Linked DNA regions of Homo sapiens: all the other regions are linked to region 3. Evidence: fine-mapped expression QTL. A gene starts in region 3. Each other region holds a variant in brackets. All regions are shown on one strand. Distances are between the middles of the regions.

Region 1 (8,163 bases), 160 kb before region 3:
ATAAATATTGTTCAAATGTTAGTTGGGGAAAACAAAAGAGAAGCTGCTGAGGAAGAACTGGCCTCTCCAAAGCAGGGTGTGTGAAGTGGACCATGGCTCCAGCCCCTTCCCTAACAGCTGGGTGTGTAGTCACAGGGGGATCTGGCAGGAAGACTGAAGATTCCCCCATGGTCATTCCCTGCCTGATTTGCCCCATGGGGCTCTGAGAGTCAGAACTAGGAACAGCTGCTGGCTTCCCAGGTTCAGAACCATCATCATCAAGTATTTATTAAGCCCCCACTGTGTGCAGAGGGGGTTCCAAAGGATGGGACCAGAGCTGAATTCATTTTCATTTCTAACCACAGCAGCCTTAGGAATCAGAAAGGAAGTCACCATGAGGGAATTCCCCAGAACACCTGGGGTTTTAAAAGGCAGGCCTCTTCCTCTCTGGCTCTTGATTCCCCATCACCCTTTGGCCTCTGTCCAGCTCCCTCCCTCGATGGGAAGAGGAAAGGGTAGGAGATCCATGCACACATACACAGACACACATCCAGAAAACATGTAAGCAGGTGGACATATGTGCACATGTGTACATGGTTGTGTGCACACACTAGCCCATGCATGCACACATGCACACATATACACATAGGAAGCTCCTAAAACAGCATTCCTGACTGGTAAGCAGCAAGTGTCCAGATCAGGGAGGGACAGAGCCCCCCCAAAATGAGCCCAGAGTCCCCTCTGTATATCAGTTCTCACCTCTCCAATCCCCCATTAACCCTGATGATTGAGAGCTAAATATTACTTGTAATACAAGCCACGACCCCAGATACGTGACAATTACTCTTGCACAATAATCTTGATTCTGGCCAGGCATGGTGGCTCATGCCTATAATCCCAGCACTTTGGGAGCCCAAGGCAGGAGGGTTGATTGAAGTCAGGAGTTCGAGACCAGCCTGGACAACATAGCAAGACCCAGACTCTACAAAATTTTTTAAATTAGCTGGACATGGTGGCGAGTGCCTGTAGTCCAGCTACCCAGGAGGCTGAGGGAGGAGGACTGCTTGAGCCCAAGAGTTTGAGGCTGCAGTGAGCTGTGATAGCGCCACTGCACTTCAACCTGGGCGACAGAGTGTTACCCTGTCTCTAAATATATATATATATAAAATAATAATCTTGATATCAATGACATAATCATTTCCCCTACCCCTGCCAACACACACACACACACACACACACACACACACACACACACACACACACACACTAGAAGTCACAGTACCAGGCCTCAGATGCAAGCCTGGGGTCTCATGTGTTTTCCCATGACCAAGCCCTCTAGAACCCACCCCCAACCCCTTCAGCATCCTCTGCCTTCCCTGCCCTTCCCTTCTGTATTCTTGATTTCCCTCCCTCTCCTCCATCCGCAGACAGAGCCACCTGCTTGGTTCAAGGCTCCAGATCGCATACTTAGGTTTAATGATCCTCTAATAAATTATCATGAATATGTTGTTAGTAGCAAAAATGTGCTGTTCGTGTTGGTTTTTTAGTGTTGGATACAGTTTTCTGGGCTGTGAAAAATCAATTTTGGAGAACAGGCTCCAGGCCTGGGTATTCCTATGCTCACTCTACCCCCATGAGCTGCCTTCTGCCTCAGCTAACCTTTCTGGCCAGCCTCTTGCCTCCAGTTCTTCTGGCTGTGCCAATGGGATCCAAATGGGGCCTATCAGAGCACGTCCTGCCATCATGGATAAGGATGAAAGATAGCTTGGGTAGAGCCCTAACTATGCCAGCACCAAAGATCAGTGGTTATCTGGAAATGGGCTGGAACTTGACAGCTGATGCCACGGAGCCAGCTCATGCCCCTTGTTACAGCTATCCTGTCATGAACAGGAGGAGGAGGACAATGTCATGTTTAGAGCTTGGGCTCAAGTGTCAGACTGCCCAGGCTGGAACCGTTCTCTGCTGCAGGGATGGCTGTGTGACCACAGGCAAGATGACCTTCTGATCATCCATACACATCTCTTCCTAACTCCACAGTGATGTCACATTAGCAGCTTGAAATCAGCCATGATCAGAGTATTTACACCACAGAAATCGGCTAACACTGTAAATTAGAGCTTATGTTTTCCTGGAAGCCGCTTGCTAAATCTTTCCTGGCTGTTCAACATTTATCAGCATATTACTGCCTCCTATATCATTACATACAGGCTGTGCGCTCCACCCTCTGCCTTCCTTCTCACCAGCACAAGCTTTGCCACTCGCCCACTTTGTGACCAGTTGCTTATGTTCTCAGGCCTTCAATTTCCTTAGTCCAATGAGAGCACCGGCCAAGTACTTTGTAACTGTCAAGCACCGACAGGTTAGTGAATCAGCTGGGAGCTCTCAACCACAGGGCCTGATCATGTCAGGTTTTCCACGTTGCCCTCCAGATGCACCGCACTCAGGCGTCTTCCCGCTGTTGCTGCCTGTCCAAAGCCCCACTGTTGAAAAGCCCCCAATGCTTCCCTTGGCCCCCAGCCACAACCATGTCTTCACAGCAGCCTGTGAGTTGAGGCCATCACCCATTTTATAGATGAAAAAACTGAGGCATTAAAAAGATTTTAAAACTTGCCCAGAGTTACTAATTAGTAACTAGCCATAAAGCTGGAATCAAACCCAGGCCTGTCCAACCTTTTGACAAACCCTCGCCATATGTCCTGAAACCCAAATTTAAAGGATTCATTCTTACTGGTGTTTATTAAACATTACCATGTGACTCACACACCCAACCCTCAGGAACTTAAAGTCTCACTGTAGAGACAAGTTATACTTACATGGGGTGACAAAAAACAGCAATGCAGATCCCAAAGTGTGGGCGAGACAGTAGAGTTCATTGAAGGCAGAGGGTTGTCAAGGGTGGCTTCCTGGAGGTGGTGGGACTTAAGCCACACCTTAAGGAATGGGGAGCAACTCCTTATGCTGCCCTAAGATGACAGGCTGACAAATTAGGCCTCTTTAGTCTGCAAACGGGGGTGTGGAGGAGCTTCTTACCTCAGAGAGACAGGAAGAGCAGACAAGGAAAGTAGGGGTGGCCTTTGGCCATACTGGCTCCACATCAAGTGTACTGGCACTCGGTTTCTGCCCTCCTTTCCAGGCTCATTCCTCACCACCTTCCTCCTTAAGCCCCAGCATCACCGACCTATTGTAGCTCTCCCGTAAGTCATGCTATTTCACATCTCCATGCCCTCTGCCTGGCATGCCCTTCCCCCAGATTTCCATCTAACACATTTCTCTTTGCCTTTCAAGACATGGCTCAAAGGTCTTCTTTCTGAGAAGCTTCCCCTGAACTCCCCAAACCCAAATCAGGAGCTCCTTCTGTATTTTCAGTGCCCTGTGCTAACAGGGCCTCTACGGAGCAACACAGCTGTTATCTCCATATGTGTCCTTTGCCCATAGACCATGACCTCCTTGAGGGCAGGGATGATGTCTTCTTCACAGCTGTACTGCAGCTCTTCCGAAGAGCCGCTTACAATAGATGCTTAGTAAAGATTAATCGAACTGACTAAACTTGAAACCTGGATGAGGTCATTTGAAGGCAAGTAAGGGAAAGTCACAGTACTTTTCACAACAAATCATAAACACAATTTCCTCATCCGTAAAATAGTGAGATAAAAAAGATGATTTCTAAGATCACTCAGCTTTAAAATTCCATAATCTATTGTCTGTAGACCTTGTTATCCCCAAAAGGTAGAACTAACTGAAAATAGGTTTAAGAAAAGTAGTGGTTCATGGTTTATATGGCTGTCTTTCCCACAGGCTGTGACCTGCATAAAAGGGCTCTAAATTTTTTCAGTATCCCCAACACTGATCACGGTGCCTGGCTATGAATTACTCATTAAAGATTTATTGGTCGGACCTGGTGGCTCACGCCTGTAATCCCAGCACTTTGGGAGGCCGATCACAAGGTCAAGAGTTCAAGACCAGCCTGGCCAACATGGTGAAACCCCGTCTCTACTAAAAAAAAACATACAAAAATTAGCTGGGCGTGGTGGCGAGCGCCTGTAATCCCAGCTACTCAGGAGGCTGAGGCAGGAGAATTGCTTGAACCCAGGAGGCGGAGGTTGCAATGAGCCAAGACCATACCACTGCACTCCAGCCTAGGCAACAGAGCAAGACTCCATCACAAAAAAAAAAAAAGATTTATTAGACAGATGGATAGTAGGATGGATGGACAGATGGA[C/T]GTGTGGATGGGTGGATAGGTGGGTGGATGGATGGATGGATGAACGGACGGATGAATGGGAGGATAGATGGGTGGATGTATGGATGTATGGATGATGGATGGATGGATGGAGGGAGTTTAGACACAAATGACAGATAATGGCAGGTTTTCTAGAAAAGCCAGTGGTGTTGGAGGGATACCCTTAACCTGGTAAGGATAGGGTCATAAAGATTAACCACCCCCTTTCTCAGACTCTGAATGGTTGGACAGCTTTAGGCTGAACAGCTCATTAGCCCATGTGGGTTCAGTCATTACTGTGTTCTTATCTAGGAGCTTCATTACTGGATTAATTAATGCTCCAATAATAAAAACAAATCCTGTGTTTGCAGAGCACTTTATAGTTTTCCAACTGCTTTTATGTAAAATATTTCATTTGCAACTCTTGGCAGCCCTGGAAGGCTGGCTGGGGAGGTTCTATTGCCTCATCGTTGCCACTCTTACTCCCATGAACTAGAGTTTAGAAAGGTTTCAGTAGTTTGCTCAAGGTCACCAGTTAGGCATGGATTTGAACCTGGGTCTGTCTGTGCTCTTTCCCATCCATTCTGCCTGGAAAGCCCTTCCAGCCCACCTCTTGCTCTGTGTCCTGTCCTGTGAGAATTTAGGGAGCAGCACAAGTGCCACCCCTGCCCAGAGCTTTCCCTGACCTCCCCTCCTCTCCTCCCTCAATTTGACATTATCTCCCTCTTCCGAATTCCCTTGGCACTTTATTGTATCTCTCTGGGGACACTGTTCACCTCTTGCTTTGTACTGGTGTTGTCTATAGATATATGTCTTCTCTCCCCTGATTTTATCATATATATATACAGAGAGAGAGAGAGAGAATCTGTTGCCCAGGCTGGAGTGCAGTGACGCGATCTCAGTCTTGGCTCACTGCAACCTCCGCCTCCCAGGTTCAAGCGATTCTCATGCCTCAGCCTCCCGGGCAGCTGGGATTGCAGGCGCCCGCCACCACGCCTGGCTAATTTCCCTGATTTTAATTGACACCATAAGCTCCTTGGTGACAGGAGCTTATGGTATAAATTGGAAAACACACACACACACAAAACACTGCACTTCACGCTGCACCCAAATTGTGTGTTGAATACATAAGCAGGTAAGAGGGTGAGTGAGTTTAGCCTGACTGAGAGTTTGGGCACTTTGACCCAGGACACATTACTTGCCCCTTACTTGCCCGGCTGGCCACCAGGAATGCCAACTGGTAAGTGTAGGCCTTCTGTCCACACTTCTTTCCTGAGAGTCCCTGGATGTCTAGACCCTGGGTGAAGCCTCTTATAATGAATGCCCACCTAACCCCTGCCCCTGCAAGCCATGATCTGAGGAGCAAGGTAGGACTACAGCATGTCACCTGTCCCCTGGCCACGCACCAACAACTCTCAGCCACCTATGGGTGCCAAGGAGTCTTCAGCTTCACACAGGCTCCTCCCCATACTCTGCTTTGCTAAAGAAAAACTGGAGCTCTTTTGCATCATCTGAGTGTCAAGGTAAAGGGGACATACGGCCTGACTCCCTACACTTGGAGCATTTACTGAGGGCCAACTGTGGGCATTCATGGTTCCAACACGCCAGGGAGTAAAGTTAGTATGCCCATTCTATAGATGAAGAAACTGAGTCAAATTTCAGAGAAGGTTAACTGGCCTGCTCTTGTTCACAGTGGGAGGGGAGAGTCCAAGCCATGAGCCACACAGGTCTATGCGCTCTGAGAGGTCACAACCTCTCCACTCAGCCTCTGCTACTGAACTTCATTGCTTTCCAGAGAAAGTATCCCTCCTGCCCACCACTCCCACCCAGGTCCTCCATGAAACCCCCTCTAACAACAGGAGTGGGAAAAGGTTTCAAAAGAGCAGCTCCATGGAGATCTGTCTGGACAAAGGTTGGTGATTCTGCTTCTAAAACTCTGCAGAGGCCAGGATGGCCCTAACATGGAGAGAAGACAGTGGAGTGGCCAGGCCAGGCCAGGCACCAGAGCAGTCTTGGGCTGGGAATCGGTCCATCTGATTCCGAGTTGCCATTTTCCTGCCAGGGACCATGACGAGCAAGGTGCGCCCCTCTGAGCCTGTGAAACTGGGATCGTTCACACCTCCTGCACAGTTGTCTTGTGAAAACTGAGATACATTTTAAAATGTGTCTCCTGACCCCTTCTCTGAGGCTTTGGTGTAGGAACTTGTTGTTCTAACCAGATGAGTCAGTCCGGATGGGAACGTTTATTTACTTGAGGGAGTCAAAGGTCGAATGGAAGGTGCTGATACCGTGTCTGGAAAGAAGGCATGGGAAATGGGCACAGGTTGCCAACATTCTGTCACCAAGATGCCTGCCGGGCTCACAGGGAGCCAGTGGAGGTGCATACTTTGCACACGGTGAAGTGCTGCCGACGTGCACTGGCCAGTACAAGAGAGGGGTCTGTGCAGACCCCTGACTGACAAGGGCTCAGCATGGAAGCCTCGGCCCCAGAGTCTGGGTAGGTCCACTGTCTGCATGGGGCCGACTCGGTAGAGAGAGCCATCACTTGCCATCCTGGGTGCGTGTGTCCTGCCCAGCCCCACACTGTGGTGTAGGTGATGACACCCACCCCCACTGGAGACTTGGCTCCACAGGGTGGGATTTGCGTCTATTTTATTCACTGCTATAACCCCAGTGCCCAAAACAGGGCCTGTCATAGAGCATGTTCTCAATTCAGATTTGCTGAATAAATCAGCTTCCTGGCCCCAGTCTCAAACGACTCACAGAAAATAAAAACTCTAACAGTTTCCGGGGAGAGGGGAGAGATACCATTAGGAGATATACCTAATGCTAAATGACGAATTAATGGGTGCAGCACACCAACATGGCACATGTATACATATGTAACAAACCTGCACGTTGTACACATGTACCCTAAAACTTAAAGTATAATAATAATTTAAAAAAAAAAAAACTCTAACAGTTTCCCAAATGCAGAACAGGCACCTGAGCAGCAGCCCAAGGGAGGGCCCAGACCGGAGCAGCCATGGATTCCTAGCAGGGAAGAAGGCGGCCAGTGTCTCGTGGGCCTGGATGGATGTCTCTCCCACAGGGAGGGCAGTGAGGGACGAGCAGGGCCGGCTGGCAGTTGAGGCCACAGCCCCCTGAGCCAGCCCCTCCCTGGACCCCAGGTGGCCAGTAGCAGATCCCCGCCCCGCCCTGGCTCTGAGATTGCGGTCCGAGCTGGTCAGTGCTCACCCATGGGGATGGGGGCAGAGCAACCTGTGGCGGGTTTGTGAGGAGTGTGGCGGCCTCTGCTGGTGGCGTATGCACATAGCTTCGCACTCCAGGCACCTTGGGAGATGCGAGGGAGCCCCCAGACAGCATCTGAACCCCGGCCTCAGCTTTCTGCTTCCTTCCATGGAGGCCCAGGGACTGGATCTGGTGCCAGAATCAACTTCTGTGAATATTTTGCAAAAGTCGCTCTTATTTCCCAGGCTTCCTTGGGTTTTTTCACCATTGGGGAAGAAGAAACCATCTGTTGTCTGTCCCGGGTGAGGGCACCATAAAGCCTTTGAATGAGAGGGCTGGACAGGATGCCAGAGGCGCCTCCAGGCCCACCACCCTATTAGCAAGAGAAGACCTCCGGAGATGGGAGGGGACTTGCCTGTACTCATTCGTGAGTCAGGCACAAAGCCGGGACTCGAGCCCGGCCTCCGCGATGGTCCCCTTCAACTGGTCCATCATCTCTCGGTTGCTATGGGGCATCCACCAACACAGCTCCACTCCCGGTTGCTGCTGTGAAACGAGGGAAGAAGCCCCCTCTCCCCTCAGCACAGCCACCAGGCACAGTCAGGAGCTGCAACCTGGGTGCCCAGCCCTCTGACAGGAATCCTGCAGAAGGCCAGGCCCCTCTCCTGCCTCCCGCCCTTGTTTTGCCTCCCTTCGCTCCTGGGAAAGGTGGCAGCCGGAGGGTTGCTATGGACACC
Region 2 (8,154 bases), 24 kb after region 3:
AGGAGGCAGAGGTTTCAGTGGGCCGAGATCGAGCCACTACACACCAGCCTGGGTGAAAGAGTGAGACCTCGTCTCAAAAAATAAAATAAAAATAAAATAAAATAAAATCTAGCTGAGACAGATTAGGTGGTTTGCCCGAGGCCCTACAACTAATAAATGGCCTATCCATTTATTAGTTGTATTTGGCTCTTCATCTGTCTTATGATCCCATTTGCAGAGAGCTCTCACTTGGTTATAGATAATACATAGTTACCAATGATGAAGCAATATAAACCCAATTTCCTAATTTGTAAAATGAAGATAATAAAACTACTTGCTGCATAGAGTTGCTGGGAAGATTAAATAAGTCCATATAGATGTAAAGTGCTTAAAACTATGCCAGACCTATGGTAAGTGACAAGAGTTGTTATTGGGATTTTTAAAAATTATTATTATTATTATTATTATTTGAGACAGAGTCTCGCTCTGTCTCCCAGGCTGGAGTGCAGTGGCATGATCTCGGCTCACTGCAAGCTCCGCCTCCCAGGTTCACGCCATTCTCTTGCCTCAGCCTCCCGAGTAGCTGGGACTACAGGCGCCCGCCACTACACCCGGCTAATGTTTTGTATTTTTTAGTACAGACAGGGTTTCACCGTGTTATCCAGGATGGTCTCGATCTCCTGACCTCATGATCCACCCGCCTTGTCCTCCCAAAGTGCTGAGATTACAGGCGTGAGCCACCGCACCCAGCTAAATTACTGTTTTTTAAAAATTTGAAAAAAACCACTGAGTTTGGAGCCAGAAAAGCAGGGGTCTACTCCAACCTTCATTATCTACTTCCTGGTCCTCCTTGGCAAGTTCCTGGGCCCTCTGGCCTTCAGTGGCTCATCTGTAAAATGGGCTCTTCACCCTCCTATTTGACCCACAGAGTAGGAGTGGCTGCCTCTTGGTCAGCCCGGCACAGCTGCTGGCTGCGAGCGGCAGGTTTGCCTGATAATTCTTCTTGTCCATAGTAGAGGCGGGATGTGGTAACAGAGACCAAGACTGTGGAGTTGGTGATTGTGGCTGATCACTCGGAGGTGAGCCTGCTGGCCCCTGCACATCCTCCTCCCCCTGCACTGCCCTGCCGCCTTTCATGTCACCTCTCTTGGCCTACAGGCCCAGAAATACCGGGACTTCCAGCACCTGCTAAACCGCACACTGGAAGTGGCCCTCTTGCTGGACACAGTGAGTGCTGGACAGGGCAACCCCCACCCCAGGCCCCTGACCATGGCAACCCCTCTTCTGAGCCCCAGCTGTCTTTCAGTTCTTCCGGCCCCTGAATGTACGAGTGGCACTAGTGGGCCTGGAGGCCTGGACCCAGCGTGACCTGGTGGAGATCAGCCCAAACCCAGCTGTCACCCTCGAAAACTTCCTCCACTGGCGCAGGGCACATTTGCTGCCTCGATTGCCCCATGACAGTGCCCAGCTGGTGACGTAAGGGCCCCAGACTCAGCCAGAGAGGCCAGTCCTGTCCTGGCCAAATTCACACCCCTTCAGCACCCTACCTCAGCCCCTGAAGCTCTGACCACCGTGGCTTCTGGCCCTGAACTTTAGCCTCTCTGTCCCACAGTGGTACTTCATTCTCTGGGCCTACGGTGGGCATGGCCATTCAGAACTCCATCTGTTCTCCTGACTTCTCAGGAGGTGTGAACATGGTGAGTTATTTCCAGGTCTCCTCCTCATTCCCAATTCAGTTCCTCCCAAGTGTGGTGGCATTTATGCACTGAAACCCCCCTATAAAGTTGCCCAACCCCAAAGCTACAGGTATAGAGGGTGGAGGTACGTGATGTGGCCTTTGCTATCAGGGAGCCCTCGCTTATGGCCAGCTAGTCACAGTGTACACAGTCATCCCCTGTGCAGTCTTCCCATTTCTTAGAGGAGGGTAGGAGGCAGCTAAGGCCCAAAGAACAGAGGTGATCTCCCTCCAGTGAGGGAGGGGGACAGAGCTGAGCTAGAACCCAAGTTTCTGCCATCCAGGCCTGGGTTCTCCTACTTTAGAAGCAATTCAGGAGGGAAGCAGTGCCTGCTGAGTGCCCACGAGGTCAGACGTGGAGGGAACAGGAGCAGAGAGGGTGGTCTGGGCATTGTGGTGGAGGCAGGCTGGGACTGGACCTACAGTACCCCTCCCCAATGACAGGACCACTCCACCAGCATCCTGGGAGTCGCCTCCTCCATAGCCCATGAGTTGGGCCACAGCCTGGGCCTGGACCATGATTTGCCTGGGAATAGCTGCCCCTGTCCAGGTCCAGCCCCAGCCAAGACCTGCATCATGGAGGCCTCCACAGAGTAAGTAGCTGCAGGATGGAGAGAGGGTGTGGGGCAGGGGGCAGGGAGAGGCCCCCAGCCCCAACCTTCCTTGCCACCCTCCCCAGCTTCCTACCAGGCCTGAACTTCAGCAACTGCAGCCGACGGGCCCTGGAGAAAGCCCTCCTGGATGGAATGGGCAGCTGCCTCTTCGAACGGCTGCCTAGCCTACCCCCTATGGCTGCTTTCTGCGGAAATATGTTTGTGGAGCCGGGCGAGCAGTGTGACTGTGGCTTCCTGGATGTGAGCCCCTTTCCCAAAGCCTCGCCCCACTCACTTCTGTACCCTCACCCTGGCTCATTAGCCCTATCCCAGCCTCCTGAGCTCTTGGGTTCTGAAGGGACTTTCCACCCCTCTCCTACTTGCCCTGTCTGTGGGGACAGCACATGGGTTGTTGGGCTCTAGCCCTCGCTTGCTGTGTAGCTTCTGGTCTTGGCCTGTGGGAGGAGGAGAGATTGGAGGGAGGCTCACAGGCCCCACCTGCTCTGATGCCCGGCCCCCGTGCTCCTGCCCACAGGACTGCGTCGATCCCTGCTGTGATTCTTTGACCTGCCAGCTGAGGCCAGGTGCACAGTGTGCATCTGACGGACCCTGTTGTCAAAATTGCCAGGTGGGTAGAGACTAGACTGGCCACCCGGAGCTCACCTGCCGGGGCCAAGGTGGAAAGGGTCATTCTGACCCCCGGCTGGATTTGCTCAGTGCCCACACTGATGCTCATCCACCCTCCACAGCTGCGCCCGTCTGGCTGGCAGTGTCGTCCTACCAGAGGGGATTGTGACTTGCCTGAATTCTGCCCAGGAGACAGCTCCCAGTGTCCCCCTGATGTCAGCCTAGGGGATGGCGAGCCCTGCGCTGGCGGGCAAGCTGTGTGCATGCACGGGCGTTGTGCCTCCTATGCCCAGCAGTGCCAGTCACTTTGGGGACCTGGAGCCCAGCCCGCTGCGCCACTTTGCCTCCAGACAGCTAATACTCGGGGAAATGCTTTTGGGAGCTGTGGGCGCAACCCCAGTGGCAGTTATGTGTCCTGCACCCCTAGGTAAGTGAGGAAACCTGGCTCCTCCTTTGGGTTTCTGAGAGCCTTGGCCCTGCTCCTACTAACTCTGTGTGCCCTTCCCCCTCCCCACAGAGATGCCATTTGTGGGCAGCTCCAGTGCCAGACAGGTAGGACCCAGCCTCTGCTGGGCTCCATCCGGGATCTACTCTGGGAGACAATAGATGTGAATGGGACTGAGCTGAACTGCAGCTGGGTGCACCTGGACCTGGGCAGTGATGTGGCCCAGCCCCTCCTGACTCTGCCTGGCACAGCCTGTGGCCCTGGCCTGGTGAGCAGCCTGGGTGGGCAAGACCAGGTGTGAGAAGGGACATTTGGACCACAATGAACAGAGCCCAGACTTCACCATTCACCAATGTCAAAGGCAGGGACTCCAAGGGAAGTCAGTTTCTTACTTCAGATGGAGCAAAGTCCTATCAACTCACTATGCCTTGGTTTCCCCATCTGTAAACGCAGGGTATGGCCTCAACCTTATTGGCCTCCCAGTCCCATTAAAGCTTTGTGGGAATCTGATCCAGGCTCTTCTCTCCCTGGGTCAGGTGTGTATAGACCATCGATGCCAGCGTGTGGATCTCCTGGGGGCACAGGAATGTCGAAGCAAATGCCATGGACATGGGGTGAGCTGGGATGGGGGAAGTGGAAGGGGAGCAGAGAGCCTCTAGAGAGGAAAAGGATACTGGGCTTTGGAAATAGACATATCTGGGTTTTAATCCTTGCTCTACTACTTCC[C/T]AGTTGTGTGACCTCGGGCAGGTTACTAACTTTGCTGAGCTCAGTTTCCCCACCTATCAAATGGCTATAATAATAGTATCCCCATCCAGGGTACATGAGATGAGTATGAAAGCATCTAGCACAGGCTGGGCACAATGGCTCATGCCTATAATCACAGTTTTTTTGTTTGTTTGTTTGTTTTGTTTTGAGACAGAGTCTCGCTCTGTTGCCTAGGCTGGAGTGCGCTGGCGTGATCTCGGCTCACTGCAACCTCTGCCTCCCAGGCTCAAACATTACTCATGTCTCAGCCTCCCTACTCGCTGGGATTACAGTCACCCGCCACCATGCCCAGCTAATTTTTGTATTTTCAGTAGAGATGGGTTTCACCATGTTGGCCAGGCTAGTCTTGAACTTCTGACCTCAAGTGATCCTCCCGCCTCAGCCTCCCAAAGTGCTGGGATTATAGGGGTGAGCCACTGCACCCAGCCAAATCACAGTACTTTGGGAGGCCAAGGCAGGAGGATTACTTGAGGCCAGGAGTTCAAAACCAGCCTGGTCAACATAGTGAGACCCCCATCTCTTTCAAGGAAAAATTTAAAAATTATTCAGGCCTGCTGGTGCACACCTATGCTCCCAGCTACTTGGGAGGCTGAGGCAGGAGGACTGCTTGAGCCCAGGAGTTTGGGGCTGCAGTGAGCCATAATTGCACCACTGCACTCCAGCCTGGGCAACAGAGTGAGACTCCATCTTACTTGCTGTCTAAAATAAAATAAAATAAAACAAAACAAAACAAACACAAAGAAAGAAAGCATGTACCACAGTGCCCAGCACACAGAAGGAGCTCAGTAAGTGTTAGTTTGATCTAATTTGCTCTGGTATGGATAAAGACCCTCCCTCCGGGCTGTCTCTACACACATACCCAGCACAACCCCCAGTTGTAGAAATCTGAGATCTTGAAAAGCTAGAGACAAGGAAATAGTTCCAGAGTGCAGAGCTCCTCATTGCTCGCCTTGTACCTCCTAGGTCTGTGACAGCAACAGGCACTGCTACTGTGAGGAGGGCTGGGCACCCCCTGACTGCACCACTCAGCTCAAAGGTAGCATGGGGGTGGGGGACAGGGGCAGCTGGGAGGGCAAAGCGTCTCATGCTTTATCTTGCCCCCTCGGCCCTCTCTTTCTGACCCCCCTTTGCTGCTGGTTCCCTGAGTCTGTGCCCCTTGAACCCTTCACTCTCCCTGATCACTTGACTTCACTCCCTGCCCCCTGCGCCTTCATGGATCTAGAGTTCTTAGCCCCGTCCTCCCTTAAACCTGACTTCCGCCCACAGCAACCAGCTCCCTGACCACAGGGCTGCTCCTCAGCCTCCTGGTCTTATTGGTCCTGGTGATGCTTGGTGCCAGCTACTGGTACCGTGCCCGCCTGCACCAGCGACTCTGCCAGCTCAAGGGACCCACCTGCCAGTACAGGTATGAGCATCACCTCCCTGCTACCACTTCCTTCAACTGGGGACAGTGCTGAAGGCTGCCTCACCTCTGCAGCCCCTGCCACCTGGTTCTGAGCCCCAGGCCCCTTGGACCTTAAAGTTGCTGACTGCCATACCCCACACCTCCCTTCCCTATATGTGCCCACAGCTTTTTACCTCACAGCTGTGCCCCTGTGGGGTGGCTGGATTGCTAGGGCCATTTCTCCCCAGGAGCCCCTGTGCTGGATAAGTAGGGTCTTCCCTCAAGCTAATAAATACTGCCCCCCACCCCGGCCCTACCACAATTTTACCTAAACCACACATAAGTGCCTGCAAAGGGTTAACCCCACTCAGGGATGGCATATGGTAGAAAACAGGGTCTGAGGCTGGGCCCTCTCCCTTCTTGCCTTTCCTCATGCATAGGGCAGCCCAATCTGGTCCCTCTGAACGGCCAGGACCTCCGCAGAGGGCCCTGCTGGCACGAGGCACTAAGGTGAGTCCTGGATGCCAGAGGAAGGGGACTCCACCTTGGCCGGGCATCCAGCTTGGGCCCTGGGGGGTGCGCATTAAAGGCTCCAGACTCAGAGAAAGGCTAGCACTGCCCAAGAGTCAGTCGAAGGAGTCAGGGCCAGCCCTGCCCTCCCCTCCCCTGGCTACAGGCAGGGAAGCTGAGTCCAGAAGAGTGGGGAGGGCAGCCAGCTGGAGCAGGAGCTGCTGGGCTCCGTCCGCTGGCCAAGAGGTGGCTTTGAGAGGTGGATCTATCCATGCCCCCAGCAGTGACCCCAGGAGGGCACAAGGGCAGTGGTGCTCAGAATGGCCTTCCGTAGGCCCAGGTCACCATGTTAGAAGGGCTGGTGAGCATCCCCACCCTGAGCCCTCTGCTTGGATGATGGGAGTGTGTGCACACCTCCTCCCCACTCGCTCCCCACCTGCATGCACCTGCATAACTGCATGCACAGCACCCACTGCCCTGGGCCCCTGCTGGCCCCCCCTGGGCACTGACCCTTCCCTGCCCACTCTGTCTCTCTGCTTCCTCTTCCCCCTCTGTGCCTATCTGCCCCTCCTGCCCTCTCAGCAGGCTAGTGCTCTCAGCTTCCCGGCCCCCCCTTCCAGGCCGCTGCCGCCTGACCCTGTGTCCAAGAGACTCCAGGTAAATCTGGGCCAGGGCCCGCCCTGAGCCAAGGCAGGTGGGAGGCTTGGTACCCAACTGCAGTTCTCATCCCTGCTCCCTGCCAGTGGTGCTCTTCATTAGGTGATCGGGGTGCCCCTCAGCCTTCAGACACTCTGAGCCCCAGAAGCAGCAAAGGGTGAGCCTCCTGCCTTGGTTTCTACCACCATCTGGTGGTCAATGGCGGGACTGCAGTCGGCCAGGGACTGCGGTTGACCTACACCTTCCTCCCCTGAGACATCAGCTGGCATGCCTCCAAGCCCTCTGCGCATGCCCTCATTCTCTCCTGCCCCCTGGCTGACTTTGCATGTTGACTTGAACCCCTCTGGGGAATCTCTGTGCATGTCCACAGCCCCTGGTTATGCTCTCACAGCCACTGCCCCTCTCTCTGTTCAGGCTGAGCTGGCTGACCGACCCAATCCCCCTACCCGCCCTCTGCCCGCTGACCCGGTGGTGAGAAGCCCGAAGGTAACGGTGGGGGGAGAGAAGGGCACGGCCTCTCCCCCCACCTAGGGCTGTGGTGCTGGTAGCCATGACGGTGGTGGCCGTGGCGAGATGCCCCCTCAGTGCATGAGGGCACATATCCCGGTGGTGCCTTTAATGGTGACAGGTTTGTTTGCAGACAAGGGTGACCGCTGGTGCTGCCCCCAAGCTGGTGTTCCCCAGCACCAGTGCGTTGGGGGTGGGCAACATGACACCCCCCCACCTAAGCCGGCCTCCTGCCTTCTCTCCCTCAGTCTCAGGGGCCAGCCAAGCCCCCACCCCCAAGGAAGCCACTGCCTGCCGACCCCCAGGGCCGGTGCCCATCGGGTGACCTGCCCGGCCCAGGGGCTGGAATCCCGCCCCTAGTGGTACCCTCCAGGTAGGAGGAGCCCTGGGCATGGGTGGGCGGGGCGAGTGACCTGGGGGAAAGGGGCCTCTGACTCTTTTTTCTTGGCTTCCCGCAATCCAGACCAGCGCCACCGCCTCCGACAGTGTCCTCGCTCTACCTCTGACCTCTCCGGAGGTTCCGCTGCCTCCAAGCCGGACTTAGGGCTTCAAGAGGCGGGCGTGCCCTCTGGAGTCCCCTACCATGACTGAAGGCGCCAGAGACTGGCGGTGTCTTAAGACTCCGGGCACCGCCACGCGCTGTCAAGCAACACTCTGCGGACCTGCCGGCGTAGTTGCAGCGGGGGCTTGGGGAGGGGCTGGGGGTTGGACGGGATTGAGGAAGGTCCGCACAGCCTGTCTCTGCTCAGTTGCAATAAACGTGACATCTTGGGAGCGTTCCCCAGAGTTTGTCTGCTTCTAGAACCCGGGTCGCTCCTGCTGCGGTTCCAGGTTTGGCCGCCAGAAGACGCTGCCGCCTCAGACGAGGGCGGGCTGTGTGGGGCGGGAGTACCAGAAAGGGTCGGCGTGTGTCCCCGGGATGCTCGCAGCTTCCCTCTGCCCAGACTGGGGT
Region 3 (8,172 bases):
CGGCCCTGCATCCCCCACGCTGCCCGGCAGCCCCTCACTGGAGGTAGAGAAGCACAAGCAGCAGAGGCGTGGTGAAGCCCATCAGAGCCAGGGCCTCTCGGACACGGTGCAGCTTCATGCTGACAGCCTCGTGGAGGTCCATGGCTACCTGGGACAGGCTCCGAGAGGCATTGAGATCCACAGAGAAGTGGTGGGTGGCTGTCATGTTGAACTCAAACTCCTGACGCACCCGGTTGAGCAACTGAATCACGGCTGGGGCCAGCAGGTTCAGGGGAGACGTGGGCAAGGAGAGTTAGGAGAGGGTGGAGCTGCCCCTGGGGAGGGGCCTGGCACAGCCCAGGGGGCGCAGCTTACAGACCAGCTGGGAACCCCCCAGTGCTTGGGTCAAGGTGGACTGAGGAGGGGACAAAGCCTCCACGTATCTGTGCCATCGCCATCACATGCTCAGCACCCAGCATGACACAGGGCATGCAACAGATGCCCCTAAGGAATGATCTTGATGACCTGAGTGTGGACCTGAATGTGGACAGGAGGCCCTGGTTCTGTTCCCAGCTCCTGCTCTCAGGGCAGGCTGTGGTGAGGCACTGGCCCTTCGCTGGACCCGTTTCCTGATCTGTACAGCATGGATATGGGCCTGGGTGATCACTTGAGCCCCTTTCTTTCTCTTACATTCTCCTTTATGGGCTGGGAGCACTGGGGGCTGGCCATGGCCACACCGGGATGAGGGAGGGAGACCACTAGGGAGCACCATATGTGGCAGGAGGGGGTCACTCACGGGTGCCGATGGTCTGGCGCAAGAAGGGTTGAATGTACTTAGGGATGACGCAGAACACCTGGACCACTGAGGGGCGGAGTCGGCTGAGTGTCGGAAGGAGGGGCACAGCCAGGCCTGCCCCCGACCTCTGGAGACCTCTTCTCACAGGGCCTCTTTTCGATTTTCCTATTGGCCTCCACATTTGCTCAAAACCTTGTAGCACCTCCCTGTCGCCCTTCTCTCCCAACACCAGTCCCTCCCTACTGCCCACCCCCACCCCCAATACTGGTCCTACCAAGCTTATTGGTTCCTCTCTGTTGCCCTCTAATCGTCCTCCTGAGCCTGCCCTCCCAACTGACCCCCACATTCCCACCCCACCCCACCCCACATCGGCTCCTCCCCGCTGGCAGACCCTGGTTTTCTCACGGCTGGCAAGTCCACAGAGCGCCAGTTTGAAGGGCATGAGCACGTAACACAGGTGGTAGGCTTGTGGTATGACCATCATGCAGCTGTCCTTGGCATCATCGAAAACCCGTGCACACTTCAGGTAAGGGTTGCCCAGTTCCGAGTTGCACACATCGCCGATGTGCAGGAGCCACTGCCACACATTCCGGAGAGCCCTGGCTGGGGACAGCTGCAGGGTTGGCACCCAGGGCTGGAATCCTACAGCCTCTTCTCAGGGTTTTGGGGAACAATACCACAGTATCCAGGGCTGGAGAGGCCTGTGGTCAGGGACCTGGCTGTGCTGTGTCCAGTGAACACTAGCCAGCGCCCAGAAGGGGCCCAAAAAACCCTGGACAGGGTACAGGTGAGGAGACTGAATTTTTTTGTTTCTGTTTGTTTGTTTTGTTTTGTTTTGTTTTGAGATGGAGTTTCGCTCTTGTTGCCCAGGCTAGAGTGCAGTGGAGTGATCTCGGCTCATTGCAACCTCCGCCTCCTGGGTTCAAGAGATTCTCCTGCCTCAGCCTCCTGAGTAGCTGGGACTACAGCTGCGTGCCACCACGCCCGGCTAACTTTTTGTATTTTTAGTAGAGACGGGGTTTCACGATGTCAGCCAGGATGGTCTTGATCTCCTGACCTCCTGATCCACCGCCTCAGCCTCCCAAAGTGCTGGGATTACAGGTGTGAGCCACCGCACCTGGCCCCCCCGCTTTTTTTTTTCTTTAGAGATGGAGTCTCACACTGTCACCCAGGCTGGATTGGAGTACAGTGGCACGATCATAGCTCACTGCAGCCTCAAACCCCTGGGTTCAAGAGATCCTTCCACCATAGCCTCCCCAGTAGCTGGGACTACAGACATGTGTCATTACATCTGGCTAGTTTTATTTATTTTCTATTTTTTTATTTTTTATAGAGACAGGGTCTCGCCATGTTGCCAAGGCTGGTCTCAAACTCCTGGGCTCAAGTGATTCTCCCACCTCGGCCTCGCAAAGTGCTGGGATTACAGGCATGAGCCACCGCACCCGGCCAGGACTGGGTGCATTTTGAGTCCCCGGGATAGACATGCTAATGTGCTTACCTATGTGTTTCACACCATCCATGATTGACCGAAAGAACTTGCGGACCCGGTCAGCCACCTCTTTGGTCTTCCGGGCAATAGCTTTAATCTTGTTCAGGGCACCTGATGGGTGAGGGACAGAGGCACTTTGGAGTCTTCTCCTCTAGGGGCTGGTTCTCACCATTGCCCCTTAAGCAGGGAGTAGAGAGGAGGCCACCATTTCCAGAGGCGGGAAGCCTGGATTCTGGGGCCTGGGAGATCGTTAATCTGGGAGTGGAGGAGGCCAGAGAGCAAGGAGAGAGGGTTTAGCTGTGCCCAGAGTCCCTTCCAGGCCCAGATGCTCCGCGATTAGCACCAGCAGAGAAGGAGGCCAAAGGACTGTAGAACATGCAGGATGAGGGGGGCGAGGGGGGCCCGTGGGAGACAGTGGTAGAGGTGGGGGACTTACTGACAAGAGGTTGCTTGGCCCTCTGTAGCACTTCGGCGGTCTGGTTCAGGGCCAGCTCTGCCCCACAGGCTACAGCCTCGCTGGCCCGGGTGAAGTTGCGTAGAGTGTTGGCACAAGGCCCTTGAAGCACCAACCCAAAAGCAGCCACCAACAGTAGTGTCCGGCCCTGCCCTGGGGGCGACAGCTTTGTTAGAACCAAGACCCCAGCCCCAAACATGGCAGCAAGTCCCTTACATAAGCCTTCAGAATATTTCCCTTAACCCCTGCCTCTCCTCCAGCATCTCTTCTGCCCCAGCACCAGCCCCAGGACCTGCCCCCTAGCCCTGGGTGCCAAGCTCACTGGAGAAGGCCTGAGGCAGCAGCAGGAGGACAGTGGCTCGGACCTGGCGAGAGAATCCCATGCCCAGGCTAAGGAAGGCAGCCAAAGTGAGGGTGCCCACCAGGCAACCCCAGGGGCTGTGGCCTTCCACCAGTAGCTCCAGAAGCCCGTAGGCCGTGGCTAAAGACAAGCCCAGGGTAAAACCTCCCACGCTGCGAACCACAGCTCTCGCCATGCTAGGCTCCTCTCCCCCCAAGGGGTGCACAACATCCTTCATGACTTTGGGCATGGCTGCTGAGACCAAATGTCTGCCTGTCTCCAGGAGATGCCCGCTGACTTCTGTGCTCCTGGAATTTCTCACCGTATTCTAAGGTTCCAAAGGGCTTTCACTGCATATGTCTTGGAATCCTTGACCCAGTTCCGAGGACTGGAGAGGGGATAGGTAGGTCTCTAATCTCCTTCCCCACTTCTCGGAGCAGAAGGATTAAAAGGCCCAGAGCTCAGGCCTAGGCTTCCCATGAAGCGGAAGAGACAGGCAGCACCTCTCTTCTCTCACCAGAACCTTGTGTCCAAGGAGGTCCTTCAGGAGACCTGGGATGAGTGGTGCTTCCCCAAAACAGACTCATGGACATTAAACATCATCAGAATGGCACAAGAGGGCAAAGAAGAAAACAGCCTCATACCAGTGAGTCACTCAGCAGAGACCCAGTATCCCTTGACCTCCACTCTCATCCCATCTCTCCTCCTGGAACTCCTGCACACTATCCCCCAACTCGGTGTCCGCGCCTCCACCACCTCTCTGGTCTAGTGCCTCCCGCCTCCCAGCCCAGCCCTTGCCTTTGCTGTCCCTTACACCCATACCACTTCCTCAGGCTCCCTCATCCTCCTCCAGGGTCCCCTAAGTTCCTACTGTTTCACATGCCAGGTTTCCCCAGCCTCTATCCACCTGCAAGCCCTGAATCCTAATGAGCCCCATCCCAGGCAGAAGAGTGGGCTGTTGAGCTACCCTGTCCCCCTCTTAGCGGTGCAGAGGCTCCTGACCTGGGGGCTGCCAGTCTCCTGTAGCTGGTTCCTGTGGCGCCAGCCGGGCGAGTTTCCTGTCACTGCTCTCCTGCTGGGGGCAGGCGCTGGGGGGCTCCTGGCCATAGGTGAGTGTGGAAGCAGAAAGTTCGGGGTGGGCAGAGGCTGGACCAGGGCTAGGACCCATCTTTTGGCCTTTGGCTTGACCTTGTGCCCTTAGGTCTCTTTCAGCTCCTGGTGAACCCCATGAACATCTACGAAGAACAGAAGATTATGTTCTTGTACAGCTTGGTGGGTTAGTGCTGGGCAAAAGCCAGGAACACTCAAGCGGCCTGTGGAACACAGCGCCGTCCTGCATGCCCAGGAAGGAGTCGGGACTTGTTTCTTCTGTACCCATACATCCCCTGTGGCTTCCGCCTCCTCCTGGGCTTTACGGGGAGGTCCAGAGGGAAGAGGCTGCCAATTTAAGAAGGAAGACACCGTCCTTGCCCTGAGGGAGTCTCTCCATTCCGAGGGACTCCCCATCACCCACATGATATAGTCCAACCCCATAACCCTTCATAACTCTCATCTCTCCTGACCTGTCTGACCTCGTTTTCTGATCCTCCTAAGAAATTAAATTCATTCATTCATTCATTCATTCACTCAGCACTTACTGAGAATCTGCTGAGGATTTAGCAGTAAACAAGGATGACAAGCATCCAGCCGTTTTGCTTTGGTTTTGTTTGTATGTTTTTGTTTTCGTTTTGAGACGGAGTCTCGCTCTGTTGCCCAGGCTGGAGTGCAGTGGCTCAATCTCAGCTCACTGCAACCTCCACCTCCCAGGTTCAAGCCATTCTCCTGCTCAGCCTCCCAAGTAGCTGGGATTACAGGCACCCATCACCATGCCCAGCTAATTTTTGTATTTTTAGTAGAGACGGGGTTTCTGTATGTTGGCCAGGCAGGTCTCGAACTTCTGACCTCAAAAGATCTACCTGCCTCGGCCTCCCAAAGTTCTGGGATTACAGGTGTAAGCCACCGTGCCCAGCCCAGTTTGGATAATTTAACAGCTCAGTAGCTTCGAGAAGGACTCAGGTTCCTTCTGTCTTTTCTCTGCCATCTTCAGTCTATTGACCACTTCTCTTCAGGTCACAAGATAGCTGCAGCAACTCTGGCATCACATCTTCATACAATAATATCAAAGATCAGAAAAAAATAAAAAAAGAGGAAGAAACAGGCCAGGCACAATGGCTCACGCCTGTAATCCCAGCACTTTGGGAGGCTGAGGCGGGTGGATCACCTGAGGTCAGGAGTTTGAGACCAGCCTGGCCAACATGGTGAAACCCTGTCTCCACTAAAAATACAAAAATTAGCCGGATGTGGTGGTGCACACCTGTAGTCCCAGCTTCTTGGGAGGCTGAGGCAGGAGGCTTGCTTGAACCCAGGAGGCAGAGATTGCAGTGAGTGGAGATCGTGCCACTGCACTCCAGCCTGGGTGACAAGAGCGAAAGGCCATCTCAAAAAAAAGAAAAGAATAGAAGTTCAATCCCAGGCCCAACTTCACTGTCTTGGGCTGTGCGATTTGAGGCCAGGGAAAAAGGAAAATGACCTAGGTGACAGAGTGAAACTCTGTCTCAAAAAAAAAAAAAAAAAAAAAAAAGGAAGAAACATCCTTTCCTCATGTCTCTTTTTAGGAACAAGGGAAACTTGCCTATAATCCCCACAGTAGACTTCCTCACATCTCTTTGGTCAGAACTGCGTGCAACACATGCCCTTTCCTGAACCTGTCCCAGGCAAGGGAAATAGAATTAGCATTTCATCACCTGTTTATTGAATTAATCCTGCTGGATACCAACAGGAGACTACTTTTTCTCTGACCCACTGTATTCAAACATGTTTTTTCCCATTGATAACCTTTCACACAGCCCCTTAGATTTCTGGTTGTATTTCTTTAGAAGACCTAGTCCTACTTCAACAATTAAGACTTATTTTTAGGGGTTAAAGAGGTCCAGTCCACTCTACATCAGACTTTTAACCTCATCCATTCTCAAGCATCTTCCCTCCTTATCTTGCCCTCCCCATCCCTTGCGCCCCCAGCTCAGGCCTGCTCCCTAGCATGGGGTCCTGCAATGGAGAAGGGGCGTGGCCTGCTCTTTCCCTTTTTTCCTCTACTTCCTTCCCTTTCTGGTTCTTCTGATGTCAGAAGGGAGATTAGAAGAATTAGAGGAAAAGGGACAAAAGTCTTAAGTCACTAATGCTATTATAATTCCACTGTGGATGCCTGCGTGTAGCAGGCACTCACACCCTGGCTGTCCCAGTAGGCCTGATTATTGTCCCCTTGGAGGCTGTGTGTGGACCTCGGCAATGCCCGGTTTCTTGCAGAGGGCAGTTCTTTTTGGCTGACCTCGAGTGAAGCCCCCCTTCAGGGGCCACCCACAGCCTCTTGCTTTTTGGATCCCTCCCTCCAGCAGGCTGGGAGTGCACACGTCCGTGCCCTGCCAGGCAGAGAAAGCAGTGCACCTTCCTTTTTGTGGAGAATGGGGTCTCGCTATATTGCCCAGGCAGGTCTCAAACCCCTGGGCTCAAGCTATCCTCCCGCCTCTGCCTCCCTAAGAGCTGGGATTACAGGCGTGAGCCACCAACGCCCCATCAAAAGCAGAGCACCTTATGGTTGCCTCTCTCCTGCCCTGATGAGAAGCAGATGCCAGTCTCCATGCTTGTGTGCCAACATCGTCCAGGGGAGGTCTACAGAGGCATTACAGAGGCTGAGCTCTCCCAGGAGCTCTCCCTCCACTCTGTGCTCTGGTGGGAGCCCTGGAGTGGCCTCATGAGGCTCTGCACTCAGCAGGAGTCTAGTCTACAGAGACCAGGCAGGTTCCCCTTCCTGCAGCGCCAGTCCCTGAAGCCTCTTGGACTCCTGGAGTCTCTCACTTGACATGTGACACCCATCCTCTCCACAGACTCTCCCTCTCTGCCTGCCCATTCCAACCACTTTTCTCCCCTTCCAGGAAATCCACATTGTTGGTCTTTTTTTTTTTTTTTTTTTTTTTAAGACAGAGTCTTGCTCTGTCCCCCAGGCTGGAATGCAGTGGCACGATCTCAGCTCACTGCAATCTCCGCCTCCCGGGTTCAAGCAATTCTCCTGCCTCAAACTCCTGAGTAGCTGGGACTACAGGCACCTGCCACCATGCCTGGCTAAATTTTATATTTTTAGTTGAGACAGCCATGTTGGCCAGGCTGGTCTCAAACTCCTGACCTCAAGTGATCCACCCGCCTTGGCCTCCCAAAGTGCTGGGATTATAGGCGTGAGCCACCATGCCTGGCCCATATTGCTGTTCTTTTTATATAGATGGGGTGGGATAGAGGAGTGAGAGTCAAGTTTTGCTGTTTTGGTGAGCCCAAAGAAGACACCCATAGCTCCATGGGGCTCTCATTAGAACATAGGGCAACTATTTGTCAACTATTAGCCTCAGCTCGAGTCTTTGGCCAGAAGGCCAAGACCACAGAACTAGTCCCTTTCAGTGTCCTGTTCTACCATGACTGGTTTAGACAGATCCAGATTTATCCCTCAGGGGCTGGGGCAGGGCCAGGCTATTGCCCTTGCAAAAAACCCAAGTTGTGTTAGCAAGGAAGAAGGCACAAAAAAAACTGTGGGGTGGCACCCGACAGGGTTTGCCACAAACCTGAATGACTAGGTGGAGCCAGCCATGTGAAGAACAGGGAGAGGAGTGCTCCTGGCAGGGGGAACAGCTAGGGCAAAGACCAGAGAGGAGGAATGAGCTTGGCTTGTCCAAGGAGCAGCAACGAGGTCTGTGTGGGTAGACATGGTGGGTGAAGGGCTGCATAGCATGAGATCAGGAGGCAGGCAGGAGCCAGATCACAAGCTAGGTAGACCATGTTAGGGAGTTCGGATTTTATACCAAATGTGGTAGAAAGCCACCGAATGGTTTGAAGCAGGGAAGGGACATGATCCGATTTATGCTTTTGCAAGATCACTCTGGCTGCCTTGTAAAAACTGAAGTGTAAGGTAGCAAGAGAGGACATAGGGAGACTCATCAGGTTATAGTCCCAGTAAGAGATGATGGGGACTCTACCACGACAGTGGAGATGGAGGAAGTGTAAGGATTTGGGATTTGCTTTGACGATCATTGGGT

Alleles and levels. Alleles are on the strand shown, and positions count from the first base shown. SD is a standard deviation of normalised expression in the study named. Not every link is listed here.
As copies of C replace T in region 2, the expression in esophagus muscle of the gene that starts at base 3,431 in region 3 goes up (small effect, 0.32 SD a copy in GTEx).

What was found.
Region 1: its variant is fine-mapped to the expression of DCST1 in whole blood (TOPMed, PIP above 0.99).
Region 2: its variant is fine-mapped to the expression of DCST1 in esophagus muscle (GTEx, PIP 0.93).

What each region holds. Positions count from the first base shown.
Region 1 is chr1:154,871,184-154,879,346 of GRCh38, forward strand. No RefSeq gene overlaps it. Among named protein-coding and RNA genes, the nearest start is that of KCNN3, 5.0 kb to the left of the region's middle. RefSeq lists enhancers at 6,143-6,728, 7,314-7,898, 7,698-7,747. The variant C/T (reference allele first, on the strand shown) is at 4,199.
Region 2 is chr1:155,054,795-155,062,948 of GRCh38, forward strand. ADAM15 (ADAM metallopeptidase domain 15) reads left to right here. Exons shown (of 23, transcript NM_207197.3): 7 at 996-1,058; 8 at 1,138-1,206; 9 at 1,286-1,455; 10 at 1,592-1,676; 11 at 2,159-2,307; 12 at 2,394-2,568; 13 at 2,843-2,935; 14 at 3,057-3,361; 15 at 3,452-3,647; 16 at 3,916-3,993; 17 at 5,108-5,180; 18 at 5,411-5,549; 19 at 5,969-6,038; 20 at 6,621-6,695; 3 more. The coding sequence ends at 7,708. All of the region lies in intron 1 of DCST1-AS1 (DCST1 antisense RNA 1), which reads right to left. It overlaps ADAM15-EFNA4 (ADAM15-EFNA4 readthrough), which reads left to right. Exons shown (of 26, transcript NR_176418.1): 7 at 996-1,058; 8 at 1,138-1,206; 9 at 1,286-1,455; 10 at 1,592-1,676; 11 at 2,159-2,307; 12 at 2,394-2,568; 13 at 2,843-2,935; 14 at 3,057-3,361; 15 at 3,452-3,647; 16 at 3,916-3,993; 17 at 5,108-5,180; 18 at 5,411-5,549; 19 at 5,969-6,038; 20 at 7,451-7,575; 1 more. Among named protein-coding and RNA genes, the nearest start is that of EFNA4, 4.9 kb to the right of the region's middle. RefSeq lists an enhancer at 1,943-2,753. The variant C/T (reference allele first, on the strand shown) is at 4,106.
Region 3 is chr1:155,030,394-155,038,565 of GRCh38, forward strand. It overlaps DCST1 (DC-STAMP domain containing 1), which reads left to right and starts at 3,431. Exons shown (of 17, transcript NM_152494.4): 1 at 3,431-3,461; 2 at 3,579-3,704; 3 at 4,042-4,167; 4 at 4,260-4,334. The coding sequence starts at 3,644. It overlaps DCST2 (DC-STAMP domain containing 2), which reads right to left and starts at 3,388. Exons shown (of 15, transcript NM_144622.3): 1 at 3,041-3,388; 2 at 2,701-2,871; 3 at 2,274-2,375; 4 at 1,181-1,378; 5 at 776-841; 6 at 39-252. The coding sequence starts at 3,308.